4 separate regions of the Homo sapiens genome follow, and regions 1, 2 and 4 are each linked to region 3. Evidence: fine-mapped expression QTL. A gene starts in region 3. Each other region holds a variant in brackets. All regions are shown on one strand. Distances are between the middles of the regions.

Evidence for each region. PIP is the estimated chance that this variant, and not a neighbour inherited with it, causes the effect.
Region 1: its variant is fine-mapped to the expression of PDGFA in whole blood (INTERVAL, PIP 0.97).
Region 2: its variant is fine-mapped to the expression of PDGFA in T cells (GENCORD, PIP 0.95).
Region 4: its variant is fine-mapped to the expression of PDGFA in whole blood (INTERVAL, PIP above 0.99).

The regions. Positions count from the first base shown.
Region 1 is chr7:494,783-499,924 of GRCh38, forward strand. It overlaps PDGFA (platelet derived growth factor subunit A), which reads right to left. Exons shown (of 6, transcript NM_033023.5): 6 at 2,476-3,792. The coding sequence ends at 3,782. Among named protein-coding and RNA genes, the nearest start is that of PDGFA, 22 kb to the right of the region's middle. RefSeq lists enhancers at 665-1,586, 1,587-2,507. The variant G/A (reference allele first, on the strand shown) is at 2,563.
Region 2 is chr7:587,878-593,019 of GRCh38, forward strand. All of the region lies in intron 7 of PRKAR1B (protein kinase cAMP-dependent type I regulatory subunit beta), which reads right to left. Among named protein-coding and RNA genes, the nearest start is that of PRKAR1B-AS1, 12 kb to the right of the region's middle. RefSeq lists a silencer at 3,132-3,278. The variant A/C (reference allele first, on the strand shown) is at 2,772.
Region 3 is chr7:516,725-521,866 of GRCh38, forward strand. PDGFA (platelet derived growth factor subunit A) reads right to left here and starts at 3,122. Exons shown (of 6, transcript NM_033023.5): 1 at 2,215-3,122; 2 at 670-766. The coding sequence starts at 2,277. PDGFA-DT (PDGFA divergent transcript) reads left to right here and starts at 3,667. Exons shown (of 3, transcript NR_033963.1): 1 at 3,667-5,142. RefSeq lists enhancers at 69-991, 1,914-2,835, 4,680-5,142 and silencers at 149-248, 2,092-2,181, 2,642-2,781, 3,062-3,151, 3,252-3,591.
Region 4 is chr7:480,556-485,697 of GRCh38, forward strand. No RefSeq gene overlaps it. Among named protein-coding and RNA genes, the nearest start is that of PDGFA, 37 kb to the right of the region's middle. The variant T/TGATGGATG (reference allele first, on the strand shown) is at 2,423.

The DNA of each region.
Region 1 (5,142 bases), 22 kb before region 3:
GGGAACGGGGGTCTGTGGGGTGCAGGAAATTCTGTGATTTTTGCTACTTGAGTTCAAATACCTGCTCTTCCTTTTGGACCTGGAGGTCGCCATCTTCCCTGGGGTCTGTATCTTGGTCCTTGCTGACCCCATTTCCAGGGAGCATGCAGAGGCAAATCTCTGTGAATCTTGGCCCTTTGGTGATAGGTGCAGGGCAAGGAGCTTCAGTCCCAGGCTGGGCACCTGCCCAGGACACAACCCCAGAAGAGCCTGGCTGGCCCTGCTGTTTGCAGGCACTTGGGGAGCTCCCGCCCCAATGCTGCTCCGGAGTCTGGGGCCCAGCCCACCCCTGGGGTGGGGCAGAGTCAAGGCCCAGGAGATGGAAGGGCCCCTGGATGCCCGGCCACAGCACAAGTCCTGCCTCTCTGTGTCCTGCGACCCTTCTACTTGGGGCCCCCTAGGCGTTCCGGGCCTGCCAGGGGCACAGCTCACTCATCTTTAAAATGGGAGCCAAGCCCTCAAGTTCCCACCCCTAGAATTCTTGGAGGAACCCATGGCTAAGTATGAAAAGCCCAAAAAAACCAAGGAGGTCCCAGGAGGGCCGTGGCTTCTTGTGCTTGACAAGAGGGCACAAACCAGAAGGGCTTCTCTGCAGAACGGGATCCCCGAGCCTGGCCCAGCCCAGCAACTGCTCTGCGCACTGGACCCAGGCAAAGACCCAGGCCTCGGCTTCACCTACCGCTGGGAATCCCAAGACAGCTGTAGGGACCCACGGCTGGAGACCACCTGCCGTCACTGACTCTCCCAGCCAGTTCCAACCCCCTCCACAGCCAGGACACAGAGGCCTGGGTGAAGAAAAGGAAACACCCCCAAGCTAAAGGAGAAGCCCAGCAAAGGCTGGGCCCCAGCTCTCATGACCCCTGGCAAGGGCACGGTGTGAGCAGGTGCATTCAGGTGTCCAGGCAGGTGCAGGAACCTCGTTTTAACAGGCGGCACCATCGCCGCTCAGCAATCCCTGAGCCCAAGGGCTCTGTCCTCTGCCATGCTGGGGCCTAGAAACACTAGAGGCTGGAGTGAAGTCCCAGCAGGAGGAGGCAGCAGACAAGACCTGCACCAGGTGAGTCAATGGCGAGGCGTCCTTACCCTGCCTGAGCTGCAGCTCCGTTTCACAGATGTGCACGCCGACATGCAGATGGAGGCCCCTCGGTCAAGGTCACAGGGCTCACAAGACATGAAGAGCTGACCCTGGGCAGAAAGTCACCTTCCTGAGCCCAGATCCAGGTGCAGCCCAGGGCTAGGGGCCGGGAGGGGGCCCAGGCAGGAGCAGAAATCCCGGGAACGCAGGGCAGAGCCGCGACAAAGGCTGCAGGCCCACGTGGGTGGAGAGGCTCGGAAAGGATCCAGCCTCAGACCACAGCCCCCGCCACACTGCAGCCCTTCCTGGCTGGAGTGGCCTCCACTCTGCCTGCCCCTCCCCAGGGCTCTCCCCATGTCGGGACAGGAGGGGCTGGCACTAGGGCCCTCGCCTGCATGGATGAACCAATGAGGGAGAAAAGGAGGGAGTGAGGGAGGGAAGGAGTAAGTAGGGAGAGAAAGCAGGCCTGAGTTCCCACCTCTACTGCTACCTCAGCCACCCCTGGGCTCCAGACCTATGGAATTCTTATGGAATTCTCTCTTCCCCACCTGGCTTTTCTGCCCCATCACTTTAATGGACACGGTATTACACCAGACGACTTTATACAAAAAAGAAAAATGGAGCATTGTCGCCAGCATCTCATGGAAACAAATACATGTTACATTGCCACACGTCACATCCAATGCACATTCCTGGGCAAGGCGCTGTAACCGGTGCAGATCTGGACAGCAGCCCACAGGCCCAGGCAGGGCCCCAGCAGGTGTCCAAGGAACAGGAACCAGCTTGCAACCACCTGGCCCTGCACTTCCCCTCCAGCCTCCAGGCTGCCCTGACGAGGCTGAAAACAGCACCATGAAGATGAGCTGTTGAAGATAATCCTTCGTAAGAACCTTCCAGCAGCACATGGACAACAGACGCCAGCCGGCCGCCAGTCCACAGATGGTCCTCGAAGAACGCGGGGTCAAGATTGAAAGCAACCTCGATGGTTTGTCTCGTGGGCCTGGAGGTGGTGGAGGGGCCAGCCCGGGCAGGGTATGGTGAGTGCTGCACATGGACACACCAAGACAGGTGGGCTCCCTTCTTGGATGAAACTCTTCATGGTCTTCTGGCTACTCTGACACTCCTCATCCGCTCCAGGGAGTGGAGCCTGCAGGAGGATGTCCTCGGCCTAACCCCCATAGGTGCTGAAGTCCGAGGTAGGCAGGCATCCCACGGGTGCCACCATGGAGGCAGGTCCAGGGACCCCACCCAGAAAGCTCTGACCTCCGTTTCCACCCAACACAGCACCGCATGACCTGGCAACCAGGGTCTAGACTCAGTGCTAGAAAAACGTACCACAAAACGCTTCTCACGTCCACGGGTTTTGTTGGTGGTATTTTTTTTTTTAATTTTGGATCAACAAAAAAAGAACATAGCAGGCTCTCAGGTATACAAAACAGGTAATATTA[G/A]GTAAACATACAAACTTCACCTTTACAAAAAAACAAACCACACACACACATTTCTGTTAATACAGGTAAAGCACAATATCTTACCAAAAATAAAGAATTTGGGTTCTGTCCAAACACTGGCAGCAGAGGGAGTGACCGCCACCACGGCACCAGGGCACACCAACAACACAGACAGAAGCGGCAATGCATCTCACGTGCCGCGTGGGAACACAGCATTCTAGGTGTGCACTGCGGGGAACAAGTTGTCACTCAGCCACAAACGGGCTCTGGGGCAGGTGCCGCAGGGACGGCGTACGATTGGTTGACGCATAGTTCTTTCAAAATGGCTTAAATTAACAAATAAAGCAGGGTAAGGGAGAAACACAAAGCCAGAAACATTTAGGAAATGATGCATAGGTAGGTATACCATGTTTATTTTAATACATCTCATTAGTTTGCATCTTGCTAGGAAAAATACCGTCGCACTGTCCTGACAGTTACAGCAGCCTGTGTGTTATCGGTGTAAATGTCATCCAAGAGATAATTAAAAAAAAAAAAAAAAAAAAAAAGCTAGCCAAAGAGTAAAAAGGAAAGCTTAATAATCACTTTATGGTGTAAAAAAAAAAAAAAAAAAACAAAAAAAAAAAAAACAAAACAAAAACAAAAAAAAAAACCACTTAAGGCTCTCAGGAAGGTTTCTGTATGGGCTTAAATACTACAGCGAGGAGGTGTGGTTTCTAAAGTTCGCGTGGCGGTTTCCAAGACATTCCTGCTTCCTGCGGGCCCCTGCAGAGCCCACCAGCACCCCTCTGGAGTCGTTCCCAAAGCAGGCTCTGCATCCTCGGCAAAAAAGCACCTGTGACCACCCGGACAGAAATCCAGTCTGCTGAGACCTCTGCACTTCCATCCCACGGGGCGACCCTCCATCTCATCGAGTTTAGATATTTTTGTGAGTCCGTTTTGTTTTTGTCATTTGTGGTTTTGTTTTCTCTCTCTCTTTCTCTCTCTCTCTTTTTGACAAGGAAGCTTCTTACTGCTTCACCGAGTGCTACAATACTTGCTTTGATGTCACATTAAACAAATGTGCACTGTCTCTTTGTTCTCCCGAGTGTTCTCGGACACAGTTTTTCACGGAGGAGAACAAAGACCGCACACTGGCAATAAAGCACCGTACATAGTAGGTTCAGGAATGTAACACGCCATGTACATCCATGTCCCAGGAAAGGGCTGCGGCTCATCCTCACCTCACATCTGCAGGGAGAAGGGAAAGACAGACACTGAGACCACCGACCAAGTGAACCACCCAGCACACACATGGCTGCATAGGAGGAAAACAGGGTGAAAACATTTAACCCAATCAGGGGCACACAGGGATTTCAAGTTTTCAAGAAATTTCCAGAATCACATTTGCCACATTGGCCATGTTGCAGTACCCTGACAGGAATTGGGATTAGGCTCACAGCATCTCACAGAACATGTCTAGAGACCAAGCCCCATTCTCCCATTGTACAGATGGGGGAAACTGAGGCCAAGAATGGCTCATTTGCCCTTCTCTCTGCCTTCCTTTCTTCCAGCCTAGGGCTTAGATGTGATTTCTGGAGCTCTGGCAGCCACCTTGGGCCATGAGACAACCCTGAGGATGGAGGCCACCAGCCAGACAGAAGAGTCTGCACCCAGGCAGACCTATGCTGATCGTTTAAGAACAATTCTTCCACATCCCATGTGGCCTCTCCATCGCACACTCCAACACGTGGGCTGCCTATAGGCTGAACATGAGTACCAGCCAGGCATGGGACAACAGGAGTGCCAGCCTCTCACCATGGGGTCTGTCACCAGCAGGCCCATGGAGGCCAGAGCCTAACGCTCTGTAGAAATGGGACCCACAGGCAGGCACAAAACCACCCACCAGGCCACACTTTCAGCAAACAAAGCCAAGGCTGACCAACAGTCCTGGACTGCTTCAAAGACCCGCCCAAGTGGACAATTTCCTCCCAAGAGGCTCCTCATGAATGGACCTCACCCGCAGGCCCAAGTCCCACATTGCAAACAGGAGCCAGGGTTCTCAGACACCCTATCTCTGAGATCCTCCTCTCTTCTAAAGAAACTATTTGTTTTGGCCACCATGGAGTCCCACGTGCCAGGAGGGGGAACCAGGCCAGACAGGGCTCCAACTTTCCCAAGCCAGACGGGCCAATGCCAAGGACCAGGAAGGCTTGAAACTGCCTCCTCCGTGATGATGGCGGCTGCCCAGGTCCCACCTCCATCTGGGAAGCGACATGTCTTGCTAGGAGACATTTCCCAAGCTCCCTTGCAGTGGAGGGATGGCAGCTGAGAAAAACACAAAAGTCACTGGGTGGGATTTCCAGGATAGCTCTCTAAGGGTGTTATTTTGCCCTTCCCCCCCCCCCCCGCTCACTCCTTCTTCCAGCCTGGAGCACAGATGTGGTTTCTGGAGCTTTAGCAGCCACCTTGGGCCATGAGGCAACTGCAGATGGATGCCACTAGCCAGACAGAAGGCGGACACTGATGATACCTCAAGACTACCCTCCCTGCTCTGCAATCCCACCCTTAGATGAAAGTCATGAAGCTCGATCTTATCTC
Region 2 (5,142 bases), 71 kb after region 3:
CCTGTCCCTGGAAAACTATGACAAAAATGCAAGCTCCAGTGAAATGGGGGAGGAATGGCGCGCAAGTCCCCGAGGCACAGCAGTGACTTGTGTGGGGCTCAGGCCGGGTTGTTTCCACAGTTGCTTATTCTGGGCCCTGGTGGCCAGGCTGACCTTTCCCATGGGCACAGGCCATTTCCGGTAGCGTGGCCCTCCCCACTCGCTCCCAAGCCGCCCTCAGTGTCCAGAAACAGACTCCTGGAGCTGCACCAAGCTTCCCACTCACAGATCAGACGACTGAGCCCAGCGAAGGTGTGGCTTGAGCCCAACTTCCATGATGGGGACAAGGACCCTAAGGACACCCACCCTCCCCTGCCTTCCAGAGCCTCAGCATGGAGGACACAGTGGGCAGTCCACTCAACGTGGACAAGTACAGGTTTGAATGTGTCACCTGCATCATTGGGCTTTGGTGAAATGAGACCATAAAAATCCCTGCCTCACTGGGTCATTATGAGAACTGATTCTCAACAAATGTTATGTTGCTGCTAATGGTGATGGTGGTGATGTTGGTGAGGATAGTGACAGTGGTGATGGTGATGGTGATGGTGGTGATGGTGATGGTGGTGATGGTGGTGAGGATAGTGACAGTGGTGATCACGATGATGGTGGTGACGGTGGTGATGGTGGTGACGGTGGTGATGGTGGTGATGTTGGTGAGGATAGTGACAGTGGTGATGACGGTGGTGATGGTGATGGTGGTGATGGTGATGGTGGTGATGGTGATGGTGGTGATGGTGGTGAGGATAGTGACAGTGGTGATGACGATGATGGTGATGGTGGTGATGGTGATGGTGATGGTGGTGATGGTGGTGAGGATAGTGACAGTGGTGATGGTGATGGTGATGGTGGTGATGGTGATGGTGGTGATGGTGGTGAGGATAGTGACAGTGGTGATCACGATGATGGTGGTGATGGTGGTGATGGTAATGGTGGTGATGGTGATGGTGGTGATGTTGGTGAGGATAGTGACAGTGGTGGTGATGGTGACGGTGGTGATGGTGATGGTGGGGATAGAGATGGTGGTGATGGTGGTGATGGTGGTGAGGATAGTGACAGTGGTGATGACGATGTGATGGTGATGATGGTGACGATAGTGGTAGTGATGATTATAGTGCTGATGATGGTAGTGATGGTGGCAATGATGATGGTGGTAGTGGTTTTTACCGGGTACACAAAAGTGTGCTGACGGGGAAAGTCAGGACATTGCAATTCCAACCCCAGCCTACCCATGACTCCCCATGCCCTTGGACTAGTCTTGTCCCCTCTGGTCTTCGGTTTCTCCATGAGAAGAGTGATTGAAATGAGCAGCTGTTCCGTGTGTCTCTGGCCTGGGCTCCTTCTCTGTCCTCCCAAATTCCTCACCACCGCTCCACGGGTGCCATGTCCACCTTGGTCCTTGTCTGCTTCCCATTGACTAGCAGGGGTATGTCAGGTGCCTGAGCTCAGAAATGGGGTCAGACACCCCTGCAAACAGCTGCTGACCCAGCCCTCGTCCTCAGCAGCCCCCACCACTGCCAAGATTCCTCCTCCTCCCAGAAGGTGATGACGATAAGCACGGCTCACTATGCTGAATGCTCCCCAGCAATCAGGCACCTCCCGAGATCCACACTTTCAGCTGAGCCTACTATTATCTCCACTCTATGGAAGAAACAGAGGCTCAGGGTCGGTGTGGCCTGCCTATGCCCACCGAGCTGCTAAGTGCTGAGGCCAAGAACTGAAACGGGACAATCTTGTTCCAGAATGGATGCTCGCACGGCCAGGCCCCACACTGTCCTGGAGACAACAAGGTCATCCCGAACCTCCACTCACACACTCAGCATCTTATCTGCTCTGGAAGAACAGAAGTGGCATCCACAGAGCACCTACCGTGTGCACGGCACCACGTCATCATGCTGCACCCTCACGTGAGACTGGAGAAGGGCAGCTCAGAGCATGCAACGTGCCCAGGCTGCCCGGGACAGAGAGAGGAGCCGGGACGATCCAGCCCCTGGATGTTGCTTTCATGATGCCAACACCAAGCCCACGGCCCTGTGAGGGTCAGGCAGCTGGGGCAGCTCTGGACATGTTCAATGGCACGGGGCCACTTTCAGACGGAATCTGCTGCAGGGAGAGGGGGCTCAACACCACGCAGAGAGAACCGGAAATGTCGGTGGCCTGGCTCCCTGGGCCCTGCCTCCCCCGGTGCCTGGAGACCAGAAGACAGAGGGGGCTCTGGCACTCTGCTGTGCAGCCCCACGCCCTTCAGGACACTCCAAGAGGAGTGTGGCTCCCACAGCCCTGAGCACCACCGGCCCAGCAAAGGGTGTGAAACCATAAGGGGACTCTGCTCCAAAGTATGTGCACATCAGCACAGCACGGCAGGACTCTGTCGCCCAAGGCACGCACCGGTGAGGAGAAGAGCTGCAGCTGAGAGCACAGAGCTGAACATGGCTGCAGGCCTGGTGGGCACAGCTGGGTGCAGCCACTGGAATCCTGGCCTGGCGGCACTGACCTTGCCACTCCAACGTGTGGCCCTCGCGTGCCCAGTCCAGGGGACCAAGAGACCAGCAGGGTGGGGGCGGGGCCCCGAGAGATGGGCACTTGGAGCCCAAGAGGCCAGCATCCGGGGAGAAAACAGCCCCAGGCCTTGCAAGTCACAGCAGACGCAGACGCAGGAGATGCAGGTGGGAACCCAGCCCTCCCCGATACCCAGGTCTCAGTTTCTCCATCAGCTCTGGGTCAGAGCAGCACTA[A/C]AATGGCTGTAAGCCCCAATTTTAGAGTCCAGGGGGTGTCCTATCTTCTGCCAAAGCCCTCCCCAAGGTCCCCTCTTTCTGGCAAAAGCCCACAGCCCAGCAGGTCCAGAAAAACCTCAGGAACTTGGCCCAAGACCAAGACGGTGCAGACGGCACTTCTCCACCCGCTGCGGGTGCCTGAACGAACCGGGCTTCCTCAGTGACAACGATCTTTTCAGAAACGCCGAGCCCAGGCCCGTCGGCAGCAGAAAGTGCCGCGTGTCTGCCCCCGAGAGCGGAGAGCGGGCCGGATGCCCGGGGCAGTGGCAGGCGCAATGACCCAGCCCAGGCCATTTTAGATTTCTGCCAGCCATAAAAAAAGCACTTCTTTTGAAAAATAATTTATAATTCACACTGACTGCCCAGCAATTACGCCCAGCCGGAGGAATGCAAGCGTGTTTTGCCCGGGGAACCTCAGACATTAAAGCCTCGTGCACCCGTCCATCTCTCGCGGCGGGGTGACAGCTGAAGGCTGCCAGGGGCCCCCGGGGGAGGGCCCGGCCCCAAAGACTGCCCCTTTTGGGATCATGTTCCTTCTGTGGCTGAGACGGTCGGTGAGGCAGGGCTGGGAGCTGGCCTCCGAGCTGGCCGGTGGGCACTGGGACCCCCACGTGGGGGCTCTGCAGTGTGTCTGCCGGCATCCCCAAGGGGGGCTTTGTGTGGGAAAAGGCAGGTGACCCCCATTTCCAGGTACAGGGCTTCCTCAAGCCCACGGCACGGGGAGGGCGGGGGCGCTAGAAGTGGCTTCTTAACACCGGTCCCACCCACTTCCCATGAGTCGGCTCGGGGGGCACGGGGCCTGGGTCCCGGCCTCAGCTCTGCCCCATCTTGCCAGCACCTACACACAGAAAGCCTGGAAAACTGGAGCGTTGATAACGGCTGCCAGGTGCAGCAGCTCACGCCTATAATTCCAGCACTCTGGGAGGCCAAGGCGGGAGGGTCGCTTGAGCTCATGAGTTTGAGACCAGCTTGGGCAACATATCAAGACTTCACCTCTATTAACAGAAAAAAAAAGGAAAAGAAAAATATATACAGCAGCCACTTCTCCAGCCTGGAGACGCACTGTCAGTGGGGTGAAATGACTGGTGATGCCTGACCCTCCCCACAATGGCCCCAGATGGCTGCAACACGGCCTCATCCCCTCACACTTCAAAGCCAGGAGGAGCAGATTCACACCACAGCCACACACCCCCAAAGTCGTGAGGTGAAGCCCACCAGAAAGCCAGCCCCGGCTCCCACGCACGGCTGTGGGGTTGGCAACTTCAGTCTGAAGGCACCGCTGTGGAACCCAGCGTGACAGACCCCAGGGCCAATGAGAAGAGAAAGAGGCCCAGGCAGGCGGAGCAGGGGTCGCCAGCTGTGAACGGTGCCCACTTTTCCTCCCACCAGGGCCTCCGTGAGGTGGACTTGCCAGGCAGGTCCCGGCTCTGATCCCCCCATGGATCAGGGTCCCCACGTGCACACTGTGTGACCCTCAGCACATCACGGCTGCCTCAGAGCTCCTGAGCCCACCGTCCCGCCCGAGTGAGGGTGCACACGGGCCCTCCCGGCTGCCGTGGCCTCACGTGGACACTGCAGGGCACTAAGCCCCGGTCGAGGCTCGGGGACCCTCCGTGACCTTAGCAGCGTCCTCGAGGCTACAAGTGACAAACTGCTTGTGCTGAGAAATGGAGAAGCCGCGTCCCTTCCCGGCCCCATTGGCTGTGCGGAGTCACTCCGGACACTGGTCCCCTCCTGGCCCCACTGGCTGTGCCGAGTCACTCCGGACATCGGTCCCTTCCCGGCTCCACCGGCTGTGCCGAGTCACTCCGGACACTGGTCCCCTCCTGGCCCCACTGGCTGTGCCGAGTCACTCCGGATACTGGTCAGCGGGGGCTGAGGGGCGGGGAGGGTCCAACCTCCACCAAAGACTCAGGTTCCAAGGGGGTCTTGGGCTCTGGATACCCCAGCACAGCCTCCACCACAGAATTCTACATCCATTGCTTCCAAACGCTGAGGTCCTGGGTAAGGATCAGGGTGAACAGAGGACTCCAAAGCTTACAAGAAAGAAAAATCAGGCCGGATACGGTGGCTCACACCTCACACCTATAGACCCAGCACTGTGGGAGGCTGAGGCGGGAGGATCACTTGAGCCCAGGAGTCCAAGACCAGCCTAGGTGGCATAGTGAGACCAGGTCTCTACAAAAAACAATTTTTTAATTAGTCAGGCGCGGTAGCACACGCCTGTAGTCCCAGCTACTCGGGAGGCTGAGGAGGGAGGATGGCTTGAGCCGGGGAGGCGGAGGCTACAGTGAGCCGAGATTGTGCCACTGCACTCCATCCTGGGTGACAG
Region 3 (5,142 bases):
GCAAAACTCTGTGCTTGCAAACAAGCTGTGTTCTCTAGTGGCCCGGCCCCAGGGCCCGAGGGTGAGCCGCAAAAATAGCCCCCAGGCAGCAGATGCGTCCAAGGCTTTTCATTGGGTCGTGAAAACAGAAAGACACCGGCTTCTGCAGCCACAGAGGCCCAGCCCTGCGGCAAGAACGCGGCACCAGCTCGCAGGGATTACAGAGGGGGCCGGGCCCTGACCCGGGGGCCGCCTCCGCCCGCCCGCCCGTCGGACCGGGAGCCGCGCCTGCCCTTGGGGCCTCGCTCCGCGGGCTGCCCGCCCGGCGCACGGGCCAGGGCTCTGCGCCCAGGGTCTGGGCCGGATCCTGCCGCTCCCCCGGCCCGAGGGCAGGCGCGGGGCCCGCACACCTGGCGGAGGCCGCGGCTGAACTTTGTGTGACACACGCGGCGTTTTCCTTAAAGGCGAAAACAATCCCGGGGCGAGCGAGCAGCCCTCGGCCGCCGCTGGGAGAGAAAGTGGAGACTGGAAGAGAAACTCCTGACTCATCCGCCCGGGCGCTTATGGCTGGGGATTGGATTCTGACCTTTCGGTGCGCTCCTGCGCGGCGCCCCGCCCGGCCCCAGCTCGGGGCGCACAGGCCGCCCGCCCGCGCCCTCCCCGCGCGCGGAGGGAAGGGGCGCGATTTACCTACGGAGTCTATCTCCAGGAGTCGCTGGAGGTCCCGGATGCTGTGGATCTGACTGCGGGCCAGCCTCTCGATCACCTCGCGGGGGATCTCGGCTTCCTGCAAGCAGAGGCCACACGGTCAGCGCCCGCGGCCCCGACCCCGCCGGCACGCGCCCCCGGCCGCCAGGAGCGCCGCCGCCCCGGGCCCGAGGAGACCCCGCGAGCGCCGGCCGCAGTCCCCGCCCCAGCCCCCGCGGAGCCCTCGCCCCGGCCCTGGAACCAGAAGCCGGGGGTGGGGCTGGAAGAGACCCCAAATTCTCCACCCGCATCCATGTTCCGCCCTTTGCAAAATCAAAGCCCCCCCCCCTTTATATTTTCAGACAAAAGCCCCCGCACTCCGGCCCCTCCACCCGGGGTGTCAGTTACAGAAGGTCTAGGGGGCAGCGAGGGGGCCGAAAGTTTCTGATTTAATAGTGAGATCAACATCTAGAAAGATCAAGTTAAAATGCGTCACGGGTCGGCGAGAGTCACGGCAGCCCTAACACTTTAATCCAGGCAGGGCTTAAATTTCACGCCCCGGAATCCCGGGCCGAACCCGTGGAGAGGTCTCTCCGTCTCACAAACACACGCACGCGCGCGCAGACACACACACGCGCACACACATCTCACTCACACACTCGCCCCACCCCGGGCTCCGGCCCAGCCGCGGCCCTAGCGCCGACTAAGACGCCCAAATCCAGCCGGCGGCCGGGAGAAGAAGCCTCCAGGGAAAGCGAGGGTTAAACTTCCACCTCGCGCAGCTCTCCGTGCCCTGCGGAGACCACCCTCACCTCTGGCCTCCCCCACTCCCCTCCCCGATTTTTAAGGAGAGTCGGGGGTCGCTGGGGAGCCTGAAGCACTAAGTTCCCACGACGGGGGCTGTGGAAAGTCATTCATCACAGCAAAGCTCCCGGGGATGGGGATGGGGATGGGGATGGGGGGGCGGGGACGCCGCGGTGGGAGGGTGCGGACGCCTGGCCCAGCCCCAGCTCGCCTCGCTCAGCCACCTGTAAGCAGGCCCGGGCGGGCGGGACTGCGCCGGCCCTGAGCCCCGCCGGGCTTGGGGACTGGGAACCGAGGGCTGCAGCTTGGCGCTGCCCACCCTGCCCGGCCAGGGGCTTCCGCAGCAGCCGCCCCTACCTATTTATCCGCCGCCCTTCTCTCCTCCCCAGGCTCCGCCGGCTCACACACACCCCCTTCCCCGCTCCCCGCACCCCGCTGCTGCAGCGCCCGCTGCGCCCCAGCTCCCCTTCCCCGGAGAGGACACTGCGCCCCCCGAAGTTTCTGCCCACTCGTCCACCTCGCTGCTCCCCGGTCCCCCCGAGGCAGAGCGACCGACGCAACACGCTGGAAACTCCCCACACACACTTAGGCATGGCAGAAAATAGAACCCAGTTGGGAAAATCTAAACATCGACCACCCTGGCAGGAACCAAAACGCTCTCTGCAGAGCCCGTGGCGCCCCAGCCGGCGGGGGGTGTGCGCCGGAGGAGCCGGCGCAGGGACGGGGCGCGGGGGCGGCACCAACCTCGGCCAGAACATGGGCGAGGTATCCGCAGCCGAGGAGCAGCAGGCAAGCCAAGGTCCTCATCGCGTCCCGAGGCGCTGGCTGCTCGGAGGAGAGGCGAGGCCGCGGGGCGGGCGCTCCAGCCGGTCTCCTGTGGCGGCGAAATTCAGTACCATCCCTTAGGGAGCGCGGCCCGGAGGAGGGTGGCGCGGGGAGCACGGAGCTGGCGGAGCGCGCCCGGCGCGAGCAGTGAGTGCGGAGAGGCAGGCAGCGCCAGCCAGGAGGAGGAGAAACAGGGAGTGCGCGCCCGCAGCGCGGGGAGCCTCCTGGGCCGCCGGGTAGGGGGTGGGGACGGAAGGGGCGGAGGGCGGGGGCTGGGCTTCTTCCTCGGTGCGTTCCCGGTGCTGGCCGCCGCCGCGCTCGCTCCCCGCGCTGGCTTCAGGAGCGACCCGGCCGGTAATTCTGCATATTTGCGGACATCAGCCCCAAGAAGAACTCCGGAGGGAGTCTGGGGCCGCCGCCGCCGCCGCCGCCACACCGATCACCTGCCTGGACGCCTGGCCCGGCCCCGGCTGCGAGCTGCGAGCCGCCCTGCGCGCCCACCGCCGGCCCCGCGCTCGCCTCCGGCCTCCTCTTGCAGCCGCCGCCCGGCCGGGCACAGCGCGGCCCAGCACCCCCTCCGCGGCGCGCCCTCGGCTCCGGCGCCGCGCTCCGCCCTCCGCTCGCCGGGGCCGGGCAGCGCCCGCGGCCGAGCCGCCTGGCAGCCACCACCCGCCGCCCGGGGCCTCGCTGCGCCGCCCGCGCGGGCCTGAGGGCGGGCGCAAGGCCGAGTCGGCGCCTCCGCCGCAGCCGCCGCCGGGAGAGGAGGAGGAGGAGTAGGCGCAGGCCCGGCTCGCCGGAGTTGGGCGGGCTCCGCAGGGCGCGCGTGTGGAGCCGGCCGGCGGCGGGGAGAGGGTTATAGCGCCGCCGCCGCGCCCCTCCCCCGCCCCCGCCCCCGCCCCCCCCCCCCGCCTCCCCCGGATTCCGGGCCTGGGACCCGCACCTCGGAAGCGCTCGGGGTTCGTGCGGACCCGGCAGGGCCCGGGCGCCGCCGCCGCGGCAGGGAGCACACACGCGCTCGCGCAAGCAGCTAAATCCATCAAAGCCCCGCGCCCGGCTCCGCGCCGGGGCTCCGCGCCCCTCCCTCGAGCTTGCCCACCCTCCAGTGCCAGCTGCAATCCTGCGGCACCGGGTGGGGAGGGAGGAGGCCGCCGCAGAAGCGCCGCCGTCGCCGGCTCGCCTCTCTCGGGCCCCAGCGGCGGCAGCGGGCAGCGCCCAGAGCTGCTGCGCCAAAAAGGGCCAGAGAGCCGGTCCCCGCCCCCGCCCCGGCGCTCCGGCCGCTCTCCACGGTTCGGATCCAGGGCCCCAGCCTTCCTCTCTCCATAAAAGGAGGGGGAGTCAGTCTTTGGGGAAGGAGGGGGGCGGGTTTGGGGCACTCACCTGGCGGCTGCCACGCGCCCCCGCCCAGGATCCGAGGCCTGGGGCATCTGAATGAGGACCCTCCACCCACATTTCCACTTGGGAGCGAGCTCCAGTCGGGGAAAGGGCCTGCAGCCCGCCTCGTCCCCACCCTGGGACCCCGCGCCCCCCAGTCCCCCACTCCCGCGCCGAAGGCAGGGCCGCGCCCTGAGCCGGGAAGTCGAGGGGATGGAAGGGAAAGGAGCCACCGGTGAGGGTCCCCCGGGTTCTGAGCCTCCCGCGTCGGGATCCGTGGGGCGCACAGAGCGCCACCTCCGGCCGAGGCGCAGCTCAGAGCGCGATGCGGGGGAGGAACGCGCGCGGAGGCCGAGGTCTGAGCGTGGCTAGACGGCTCCCACGCCGAGAAAGGGCGGGTGCGCCTGGGCTGGATGGATTTCGCCTCCCTAGACCAGGAGGGATTGGACCCTGACTACAGGTCCAGGTGCTCGTCAGTGCCCTGCCAGGGGGTCTACGCGTCCTGGTACCGGGTCCAGCGGGGTGGCGTGCTGTGCAGACCCCGAGGCTAGACGGCCTAGGCCCCTGGAGCCCAGGAGACGCTTCCTTGGGTGAGCAGCGGAGAATCCCGCCCGGCCCAGCCGTCACCCCCAACCCTGTCGATTAAACCCCTGCCCCCGTCGCGGTCGCCCTCCCTCCAGACAAAGGCCGTTAAGGCGCAGCCCCGCGGGCGGTCTTTCATCCCCAGCTAGGCCAGCTCTAGCATTTCAAAGGCCGAATCCGGAGAGCGCTTCGGGGGCTCTCCCCTTCCCCCAAATATTTGGGGAGCGACGCCTCTCCCTCCGCTCCCAGTGGGTCGCGTCTACACGCGCCCTTCCACACACCTGCAGGCCCCCTCCCCACGTCTCTCCCTTCCGTTGGCCGCAGCCCCACACCACGACCCCCGCGGTCAAGCATGCCCTCTGGGTGGTCAGGACCAAGCGGGACCGGGACAGAACCAGGGGAGCCTTGGAAACGTGGAGGAGCCCCTTAAAGCCAGGCCTTGTCCCTCCAGGGGGAACTTGCGGCTTGGGAGGGGACACCCACTGCATGGCTTCTGGAAAGAGCCGGACTCGCAGGGCCAGGACGCAGGCCGGACCCCGGCCTCATTCTTCGGCCAGTTATCCCGGAGTGGCGCGCATCCTGTCTTCCTGGGCCTCGGACTGCTCGCGCGCAGAGGGGGCCCGAGGACACCTCTGTGGGGTTAGAGGACTCGGTAAGACGGTGTGGAAGGCAAGGAGGAAGGTCGCGTTGTATTGGGGATGGGGTACCCGTCCCTCCCAGCTTGAGGGATCCTGGGGGTCCTCGCCGCCTCTGAGGGCCTAGATGGCTGCTTCCCTCGGCTCCCCTGCCCGGCCTGGAGCTACGGGTGCGCCCAGCTAGAGTTTAGGGCCACCTGGGGACGTGCAAGGGGCGCTGGAGCGAGGCGGGGGCTGGGGCGGGGCGTGGGTGCTTCAC
Region 4 (5,142 bases), 36 kb before region 3:
CACTGACAGGTGCTTCTCCAAAGGAGGGGGCTTGTGGGTGGGGGGCAGCCATGCAGATGGGCCCAACAGCCCCTGGGAGCCAAGGCAGGGGCAGCTCAGGCAGGCAGGGCAAGGAGCGAGCGCAGGCCGAGGATCAGGGTGGGGCAGCATGGGGGCTGGGACCTCTGGTGCCCCCACCACCACCCTGGTGAGGACAGGAGGCACTCCCGGGGCTCGCATGGCTGCTGACCGCAAGCTTATCTCTCCCTGTGTGCATGTCTGCCCCTGGAGACAGGACTCTCTAGCTGCCAGCCTCCCGGAGAAGCCCCAGGCTGAGCTCACCCAGTCCCCTCCAGGCCCTGAACTGCCTCTCCTCGTCCCGAGCAAGCACTCTCCTCTGCCCAGACCCCTGGCTCCAGGCCAAATCCAGGGCTGCTGAGGAGCCCGAGGCCAGGCCCAGGGGAGATGGAGGAAGTGTCAGGTGCAGGCCAGGTCGCTGTTTTCTGATTGATAGGAAAAGAGGGCCAGGCAGGGCCCTGCGGAGGGCAGGGAGGAGTCCAGGTGGAACCTGGGAGGGGAGGCAGCTGGCCAGGGCTCCAGGGAGCCTGAAAAGAAAACAGCCCCTCTCCGAAGCCTGGCACTGTCCTTCCTCTCCCCTCAGGCCATGGGCTCCCATGGAAATCAGGCCAGGTCAGAGGGCACCACAGTTTAAGTGTGAGCCCCTGCAGATCTCAGATCCGTGAGCTGGGGACAGGTTCCCTGGGGCTGCAGGAGCTCCAGAGGAAGGCCGAGGTGGGGCCAGCCCGGCAGGACACAGGTACCTGGTCCCGCTAATTAATTGCTTCCAGCAGGCTCTGAAGAGCAGCTGGGCCCAGGAATGCCCCCTCCAGTGAAGACCGACTCTGTCTAACTTGTGAAGGTTTGGATACTGACGGCGAACCGCTCTTAATAAATCTCTCTCTCCTTCTCATGCGCAGCTCATCTGCAGGGCTTGGTGCCTCTGGGGGGCCAGGACGGTGGGCAGCCCTCCTCCCGTCCCCACACTCCTCCCCTCCCCACCCTCCTCCCTCCCTTCCCGCCCTCCTCCTGTCCCCACCCTCCTCCCCTCCCCAACCTCCTCCCCTCCCCACCCTCCCCTCCCCACCGCTGGGGCTGGTCCTGCTTCTTAGTGCCCTCCTGCCTTGAATGAGCACAACCCATGCGGTGGTCCTCCTGCGTGCCACCTTCTCTGTGCTTCACCTGCATCCCTTGCTGGTCCTTGGGTTCAATAACACTGTGGGGAGTCTCCAGAGATCCCACTAGACCAGATCAGGGGCCCTTATGGACCCTCCCCACCCACCTGAGAGGCAGAATAGCCTAGAGATTAAAAACTCAGAAGGGCCAAGTTCACATTCTGACTCCTCCACTTACAAGATTTGGTGTAAGATCCTTCCTGAGCCTGTGCCTCAACTTCTCCATTTTTGAAGCATAGGTCTCTGGCAGCACCTACCCATGGGTGGTTGTGAGAATTAAAACCTAAAGCATCTAACACCCCATCTGCCCCCAAGCAGCACTAGTCACTGCTGTCATTTCCTTCAGGCACTTACTTCAGTCTACGATTATGTTCCTTTTTGTGTATGATTAATGTCTAAATTTCCCTCTTAATGGTTAGCTCCAGGAAGGCAAGAAATTCATGGTGTCTGGCAGAGTGACAGGTCCCTGTTAGGTGCTCAAGAACTTATGTTGTATGGATGGATGGATGGATGGATGGATGGATGGATGGATGGTTGGATGGAGGACAGTTGGATGGATAGATGGATGGATAGATGGATGAATGGGTGGATGGATGGATGGATAGGTGGATTGGTGGATAGTTGTATGAATAATAGACGGCTGAACAGATTGATGGTTGGATAAACGGATGGGTGAATGGGTAGGCAAGTGGGTGGATAGTTGGATGGATGATAGATTGTTAGATAGATGAATGAATGGATGAGTGGATGGAAGGGTGAAAGGGTAAGTAGATGATGGGTAGATGGATGTGTAGGTGAGTGAGTGGATAATTGGATGGACAGATAAATAGGTGGATGGATGGATGGATCAGTAGATAGTTGGATGAATGATTGATGGTTGGAACAGTTGGGTGGATGGGTAGGTGTGTTGATAGTTGGATGGATGATAGATGGTTGGATGGATTGATGGATGGAAGGATGGATGGATGGATGGATGGATGGATGTGTGAATGGATGGATGGGTAAGTGAATGAATGGGTGGATAGTTTGATGGATGGATAGATGATAGATGGATGGATGGTTGAACACATGACTGACTGGATGGAGGGATGGATGGATGGATGGGTAGATCAGTGGATAGTTGAATGAATGATAGATGGTTGGACAGATGGGTGGATGGGTGGGTGGGTGGATACTTGGATGGATGATAGATGGTTGGTTGGACTGATAGA[T/TGATGGATG]GATGGATGGATGGATGGATGGATGGATGGATGTGTGAGTGAATGGATGGGTAAGTGATGAATGGGTGGATAGTTCGATGGATGGATAGAAGATGGATGGATGGTTGGACACATGACTGGATGGATGGATGGACGGATAGTTGGATGGATGGATAGATAGAGAGATAGATAGATGGATAAGTGGATGGGTGGATGAGAGGATCTAGTACCAGGGGGATGGCTCCACCTTGATATCCAACTGAGGCCCCTGCCAATGGGTCCATCCTGATTTTGAGGAAGAACTTTGGCGGGGACCTGGGCCAGTCCTTGGCCCCCCCACCCGTGGGATATTGGGCGGGCGGGGATAAAGGGACAGCCTCGGTATCATGGACAAAGGGGCTGCACAACATGGGTGGGATGGGAAGACTGGCGGTGAAATACGCGGGTATGGGTTAAAAAATGGATGGATGGATGGATGGATGGATGGATGGATGAGTGGATGGATGGATGGATGGATGGATGGATGGATGGATGAGTGGATGGATGGATGACAGGAACTAGGACCAGGGGGATGGCTCCACCTTGATGTCCAACTGAGGCCCCTGCAATGCGCACCATCTGATTTGAGGAAGTATCTCTGCTGGAACTGGCCAGTACTTGCCCCCTCACTGTGGAATTTGGGCTGAGCCTGGAAAGCTGCTCCAAGCTATTTGCAAAGGGGTTTCCAGCCTTGGATCCCTAAAGGCTGCCAGAGAGAGGCTCCTGTGGTTCCCTGGGACAAGGAGACCTCCTTCATCCTCCATGCCTGTTTCTCAGACAGTGAAGACAAGGCACAAATGTGTGCTTTGGAGGTGGCTGAGGGGCTCAGACACTGCAGTGTGCAGGCGCCTGCCAGGCCTGATGTGGTGATGCTCGCTCAGGGCCTCTAGGGCAACCCAGGGTCATGTTTGATTTGACGAAGGGGTTAAGTGCGCTGCTCTTTAAAAGCCGGAACACAGACAATGTGAAGCTTCCTCCCTCAGACCCACCACATTGGTGGGCTTTACTTCAGCCCTAGGGACTCCTTCTGTCCCCTCACCCCTCTCAACTCCAACCCCCCCTCCCCAGACTGCAGAGAGGGGCCGGTTCTTGCCAGAGTCGCTCTTAGCCGTTTTGTGAAAAATCCATTTATTGTCTTCATTGCTTGGGAAGTTATAATCTTGAGGCTGCAGCTTCCTAAGGCGTTGCCATGGAGATGAATTTTCTGTCATAAATAAAAGTATTCTGGGGTCAGGAGATCTCAAGCATAACTAGGACAGATTTTGAGGGGGAAAATGCAAGAATTTCAGAAGCACATGAGATGATTTGGGCTGCCTTTTCCGGAGGGTGTTTTTTAGGCTGTCCTGAATTTGGCCTCTAGATGTGGGACCGTCCCTCTGCCGTACCCCCAACCCCGTTCCCCCAAGCCGACACTGTGTCTGCCTGCCCCTCCCCTCCTCCACCTGCTCAGGGCCAGAGCCTTGGGGGACCTGGTTTGGAAATCCAGGTTGGGGTGACGTCTGGGGTCACCCAAAGACGGGCTGGCTCCCAGTGTGTCCTCAGACAAGCCTTTCTGTCCCTGGCCCTAGACCCTGCCTGGGTGAGGGCCTCATTCACTCAGCCTAGGATTTTTGGAACATTCCTCACACGCCTCCTACGGGCCAGGGCTCACTCAGGTATTTCCCCTTGGGCTTGGGGCAGGCAGGGGGACACTCCCACTCCCGCATGACCCCTGCTTCCGAGGGCCCTGACCCCACCCCCACTCTTGCTCACTTCCCACCAGCCCCCATGGACATTAGCTTTAGGGATTTCCTTTTGTTCAGGGTCGCTGCAGGTCTGTGTTCGAGAAGGTGGGGGAGGCGGGACTGGAGCCCGGGAGGAAGGTATGCAGGGCTGAGGGGCCTCTGGAAGCCACCCAAGCCGACAGCCTCCGCCAGCAGTCAAGGGCTGTTTGCCAACCCCCATGCACCCCCTCATTAGGTAAACACAGAGTCCTCCATCAGCACAGGGCCCCAGAGCCATCCCTTGCACAGAGGCCCCAGGGTCCCCCGCGCTCGAGGGCCCCCCATGACCCTGGGACTGGGACTGCGGCACCCTGGGCCTCTCCTCCCAGCCCCGAGGCTCTCACTGGAGGACCCATCTTCCAAGGCTGCCACAATCCCAGGAGGCGGCTCCAGCCCCAGTAGCTCCAAAAAAACGAATGGAGAGGTGAGGAGGGAGAGAACAAAAGAAAGGAGGGAATGAAGGAGGGAGGAGGCTACGGGGTGAACCCTTTGCAGTTTGGACCTCAGACTGTGGTCCCCTCACCTACCTCCCCGGACAGCACCACCCTCCCTTCCCACCTTTGATGGGTCCCTGTCCCAGGAGAAAGCCCATAGAGACATCACACGGGAAGATCCTGCAGGAAGCCCTTCCTCCCTTGCAAACACTCGCAAAAAACGGCCCTTGATCATGGAGAAACAGGCTTCCAGGGCCCCCAGGGGCTGGGGTCCACGGTTGCAGGCCAGCAAGCCACAGCTCCCAGGCTGGGGCTCTAGTGAGTCTAGCCTCCCCAAGACCCACTTCTGCCAGGGGTTCTCTGCCTCCTGATAAATAACTGTGACACTATCTGCCCACATCCCTTGCTGAGCAGCAAAATCAACACAGGACAGGCTGTGACTCGCCAGGCCACGAGGAGCTGCAGGACGTACACACTGCATCGCCATCTGTGGGGCTTGGACAGC